2 separate regions of the Homo sapiens genome follow, and region 2 is linked to region 1. The links come from fine-mapping of genetic effects on gene expression. Tissue or cell type: whole blood. Region 1 holds a variant in brackets; the other region holds the start of a gene. All regions are shown on one strand. Distances are from middle to middle.

Evidence for each region. PIP is the estimated chance that this variant, and not a neighbour inherited with it, causes the effect. A credible set is the group of variants that fine-mapping cannot tell apart.
Region 2: it holds the start of AVEN, and the variant in region 1 is the best candidate, but not a certain one, in a credible set for the expression of AVEN in whole blood (TOPMed, PIP 0.52).

Annotation. Positions count from the first base shown.
Region 1 is chr15:33,857,995-33,860,756 of GRCh38, reverse strand. It overlaps RYR3 (ryanodine receptor 3), which reads right to left. Exons shown (of 104, transcript NM_001036.6): 100 at 1,026-1,182; 101 at 98-162. It also overlaps a transcript of AVEN not described here. Among named protein-coding and RNA genes, the nearest start is that of CHRM5, 110 kb to the left of the region's middle. RefSeq lists an enhancer at 1,237-2,436. The variant C/G (reference allele first, on the strand shown) is at 1,290.
Region 2 is chr15:34,037,715-34,040,476 of GRCh38, reverse strand. AVEN (apoptosis and caspase activation inhibitor) reads left to right here and starts at 1,273. Exons shown (of 6, transcript NM_020371.3): 1 at 1,273-1,697. The coding sequence starts at 1,431. The region is part of intron 1 of CHRM5 (cholinergic receptor muscarinic 5); the gene reads right to left. RefSeq lists silencers at 1,181-1,350, 1,531-1,740, 1,831-1,890, 2,241-2,300.

The DNA.
Region 1 (2,762 bases):
CTGGCCCTAAGTAATAGTAAAACCTATTGTTTAAAAAATCTATTTGCTTCTGGGGATATTAAAATAGAGCTGGGATTAGTAGTTAGAGTAACATTACCTCCATATCTTCTCGTACTTGTTCCTGCTGGTCTCTTAGCTCTCCGAAAGCATCAATAATAAGACCTGGAATGTTAAATACAAAGACAAAGCAATCTGTGTAGTGGTTCAGGGGTAGAGGAATGATAAAGGAAGAAGCTACTTTGTTCTGTTAAAAAAAAAAAGTGAATTATCAAAGCAAAATTAGAAAAATAATACTCGTGTTTCTTTGTGTTACATCCTGGCTAACAATTTCTCATTGTTCCTCCTAACTCTACCTTTCTACACCATGCAGTGCTGTTAACTACTTGCTCCTCCCTGAAACTCTTTCCTTTCTACTTCTCCCTGGTTGGTCTCCTATTTTGCTTAGCTATTTGTGTTCAGTCTGTGTGATAGGCTCTCCCTCTTCTCCTAGCACCTCTGACACTGAGGTGGATCAGGGTTCCTCCTCAGTTACTTCACTTCTTAGCCCTCAACACCTGCATGTCTTACAGGTTCCTCCACTCAGCATGACTCAAGCTAAATTTATCATCTTTCTCCAATCTTGACAAGCTGTTGACTAAAATATCATTCTTTCCCTCCCCTCCCCTGCACTGTCCAGCTCCTCTGCTCCTACCCTACCTCCCTCTCTGGGAAGAAAATGAAGAGGACAAGACTAGCCACAGGAGAGATCTCAGAAGCAGAAGTGAGGAGTAAATAATTCAGAGTAGAGGAACAGAAGGAAGGGGTTCCTCTGTATGGATGAAGCTTCTTATAACTGTGCCTGGGTGTGTATTTGGCTTTATATATAGCCAAAGCCTCAGGTATAGTAGATGCTAAATTAGTTCTTGCTAAATTAACAAGTAAATGAATTCACACGCTTCTTCATAAACCAATTAAGTCATAGATGGAAGAAAGCAAAAAGAACTAGATTAAACCCTGTTCATACTCAACACAATTGGCAATCATACCTTGAATGATGGCCAGCAAGATGACAATGACGAAGAAGAAAAAGGTAATGTCAAAGACAATGCGATACATTTCATAAGGATCACCAGCAGGGTCTTCAATTTCATCACCAATGCCACCTCCTGCTCTCACTCCCACGTACATGTGGAAAAGGTAACACTAGAGAAGAAAAATAAGGGGGATTTAGGCAAAAGTCACAGTTCTGTTTTTAGCAAGATGCTCAGATCATTCATATGATTCGGTCAGATTGTGGCAGCCCTAAGCCA[C/G]GAGAGGGGAACTCTTCAGAGGTGCCAGTATTCATGCTGCTAGCTGCTGTCCACTGCACCCTCTGGACAGTTTGATATCTACAAAGATGGAAAGACTGTCGTTACATTTAGGCTTTTAAAAGGTATTTTTAGGCCCATTAAAGGTGTATATAAGTTAAAAGATCTTTAAGCCTTGATGAGTATGGCCTATGCCATATAATAATTTTTCCTCATTTAATTTTAAGAGTGTTAGCCTGGCCTTCAGGCTGTGCTATAAACTGCAAAAAGGTCCCCCCTCTTCTTCATCCACATTCCCCTTACACCTGGTAGGGCAGGGATTCCTGCAGCAGGAAGGTCAAAGGTAATGGACTTTTCTGCTCCTCCTGTTCTGCAGGTTTGAGCCAATCTAGGCACGGGCTCCCTGAGCAGGGCACCCTCTGTCTCTCCACCTGATGGGTTGATTAGACTCACAGAGAAAGGACCGTCTTACACCTGGAAAATCAAAAGCCAGGGGCAGCCTGAAGACACGCTGGTCATGCCAGTACTCTAGGGGCTAGGATTGCTGTCTCATGACGGTGCTTGGCCCGAGAAAGCACATGGAGAGTTTTTCGTCAAGAAGTGTTACCTCTTTTATGGAGATGCTCACAGACTGGGCATTTCACTGTCCCCTGTCCCTGAGACACAGATTCTTTTTCTGAAATCTGGTCAAAATAAACTGGCGATGTTGCTGCAGCCAAGCTGGCTTACTCTGGGCAGTGCCTTTTTTCTCACGAAGATCTGGCCTGACGGGACTCCCCCTCCCCACCTCCAACCTGATCCTGCTGCTGGCTGTCCGCAAAGAACCTCCGACTGGCTTGCTGAAATAAATCAAGTGCTTAATCCCGGTCCATGGGACTTTGCTCTCTGTTCTGAGAGACGATGATCAAAGCTCAACTTCCATGAAATTTAGACACTGGTTTCATTCATAATAATGTCTCATCTTGGCCAGGTGCAGTGGCTCACGCCTGTAATCCCAGCACTTTGGGAGGCAGAGGTGGGCAGATCACCTGAGGTCGGGAGTTTGAGACCAGCCTGACCAACATAGAGAAACCCCATCACTACTAAAAAAAATACAAAATTAGCCAGGTGTGGTGGTGCATGCCTGTAATCCCAGCTACTAGGGAGGCTGAGGCAGAAGAATCACTTGAACCTGAGAGGCGGAGGTTGCAATGAGCTGAGATGACGCCATTGCACTCCAGCCTGGGCGACAAAAGCAAAACTCCATCTCAAAAAAATAAAATAATGTCTCATCTTTACCCCGGAAATAGATGAATGATGACGCCACTGTGCAGGGTGCTTCCCTTTCCACGGGGCTTAGATGTGTGGTAATGAAAACTACCTCCATCACTTCTGTCTTCCCAGGACACTCTCCTGTTTGGAGAAGACATCTGTCTTCTACTTTAATCTCTGCTGTGCTCTGTAACTAACTCTACAGTTCTCAAGAGCACCCCCACA
Region 2 (2,762 bases), 180 kb before region 1:
TTTTTAAGACTGTTTCTCTGGAGTTGACAATCCTTCAATAGTTCCCCCTGTCTGGAAGGCGCCCCTACTCCCATTTACCAACCAGGCAAACTCCTACTCAACCATTAGGCTTTAGCTCAGGGGTCTATTTCTCATGAAGCCTTGGGTAACCCGTTTAAATATAATTTAACTTTTCTTCTTTGGACCTTGATCTTGAATCTCTCACTGCACTCAGCAACACGGTACTGTAATCATCTATTCACACGACTAGATTATCTTCCTTGTGGGCAGTGAGCTACTTGAGGGCAGGGGCAAGGTTTTTTTTTTGTTTTTGTTTTTAATTTCAGGACATAGCACTGTGCCTGATGCAGAGTAGGCAATTAGAAGCAATGAAAAGTATTAACTATGTATGGATATAGGAAAGAACCAGAAAGTACTGAGGGGGAAGAAAACACTTATTCTGCTAGGCTGACATTTTAGCCCTTGCTTTCATTATTTTCAGGTGGTTTCAGTCCCAAGTTAAAAACTGCTTTCATGCATCTGTGTAACCAACTGTTCCCCTTCCTGTTTTCTCCTTGGTTGAAAGAAGGGACTGGAGTGAGACCGCCTTAGAATGCCAGTTCCACCACTACCTAGTTATTCACTTTAGTCAAGTTTTTTTTAACCTTTCCAAGGCTGTTACCTCACTGCAGAATAAGGATGACAGTCATCCCTACCTCATAGAGCTGTTATGAGAATGAAATACTCATGTGCTCAATAAATGTCAGCTGTAGTAGTCATTTCTACAGAAATTCTGCTGAGGACTTTGACGCCCTTTCTAGCCATCTCCCAGTTTCGCACTGTTCTCTCTCCCACGTGCTGCAGTCCACCTCTCACCAGACACAAACTCTTGTCTTTACATCCACACCTCCTGAACCCTGACTTCGGTATAGTTTTAAAATGATACACATTCGTTGCTGAAAATTAGATTAAACGGAGGAAAAAAAATTAACTCACTTCAAATCTCAGCAGTTAACCACTAACATTTTAGTATGTATTTGTTTAGACCTTTTCTTATGCAAATACATACGTTTAAACTTTTTTTTTCCGAGAGTTCACATCATACAAATTTTATTTTATGACTCGTCCTTGCACTTAGCACGGTCTCTCCCCCAACCTATCTCTGATGCCTTGAGAATCCCCCCGCCCCGCTGCAGACCCCCACCACTTCCAGCTCCCAGCGGTCCGGCCTTCCCGCGGTCCCGGTTCCGGCCCCACCTGCGGGACGCCGGCCGCCCCGCCCCGCCCCGCTCCGCTGCGGCCGGCCTCGATCCCTAGCCCCGCACCCCGCGCCTCGCTGCTACCGGGCGCCTTTCGCTCGCGGCTCCTCCGTGCGGCCCGCTTCCGGTGGGGCCAGGGCGTCTCCGCCGCAGCTCGGCTCCCGCGCGCTCAGCACCGCCAGCGGCGGCCAGATGCAGGCGGAGCGAGGAGCTCGGGGAGGCCGTGGGCGGCGGCCAGGCCGCGGCCGGCCTGGCGGAGATCGCCACAGCGAGCGGCCCGGAGCCGCAGCGGCGGTAGCCAGAGGCGGCGGCGGAGGCGGCGGCGGGGACGGAGGCGGACGCCGGGGCCGTGGCCGTGGCCGGGGCTTCCGCGGCGCTCGCGGAGGCCGAGGAGGAGGAGGCGCCCCGCGAGGCAGCCGCCGGGAGCCGGGAGGCTGGGGCGCAGGGGCCAGCGCGCCGGTAAGAGGCGACGGCTGGTGGGGCTGGGACCGCGTGTAACTGGGGCAAGTGGGGCCGAGGCCGCCAGTCAAGAGCCGCAAGAGAGCGTGCCAGGCGCGCGCCAGACGGGCGGCGGCGCCGGCGCCTGCGCGGGACGGGCGGATGGTGGCGCGGGGGCGCGCCTGGTGGCGGGGGCGCGCCTGGGTATGCGCTTGGCCCTCGTGGCCTCCTGGCCGGGCTGGCGCGAGACAGTGGGGGTAGGAGGGCTTCCCAGCCTGCCCCAGGGTCCGGGTTAGGAACCCAGAGGCCAAGGCCGTGTGTCAGGGCTGCAAGTCTCGGCGGCCCGTGGGCCGGCTGGGCTGTCTGTACGAGTACCACTATGGGACGGAGGCGCGGCCACGACGTGGTCCCTCGGCAGCCTTTACGGGCACGCTCCTGTTATTAGGAGGGAAAGGATTTTTTGGTCTGTTTTGTTAACTGTCTGTGCAATGCCTAGTACACAGTAGGCGCATAATAAAAAGTTTGTTGAGTGAAAGAATGACCCCTACGACTGGACTCTAGTATTTGGGGGCGGGACCAGATGCATAGTTCTTTGTAATAGCGTAGTTCTCTTTTATTATGCCTGTATGTGTAGAAATCAGCGAGCACTGGGCTTTGTCGTTTTGAATTTTCAATTTATAAATGAGCAGTCAAGTTCTGAGTTTTAATAGCAATATCATCAGTCTTATTGACACATTCATAGAAGGAAGTTTTTGGAGATTGGAGCAGGGGATGATATATATGGGGGCAAAGCTAACCATATCTCAGCTAAAGGAGTTAGAGGACTGTCTTTTTATGAGTTGTTCTGTTACCTTAACATCTGTAGGACAAGACCATCTTTATATTCTGCATTCTTATGCACACTGATTTAAAAAATTCTTTTTTGCATGAGGCAAAATTTGCTCTTACTGAAGTATTTACAATATCTTGAGGGCATAGCAGATAAGATATCCCTAAAGAGAGTAGTTGTATACAGCAATACAGAGCTGGAAAAAAAAGTATAAAACTTAAATTTAAATGTAACAAACTTAAATCTTGTTAGGATTA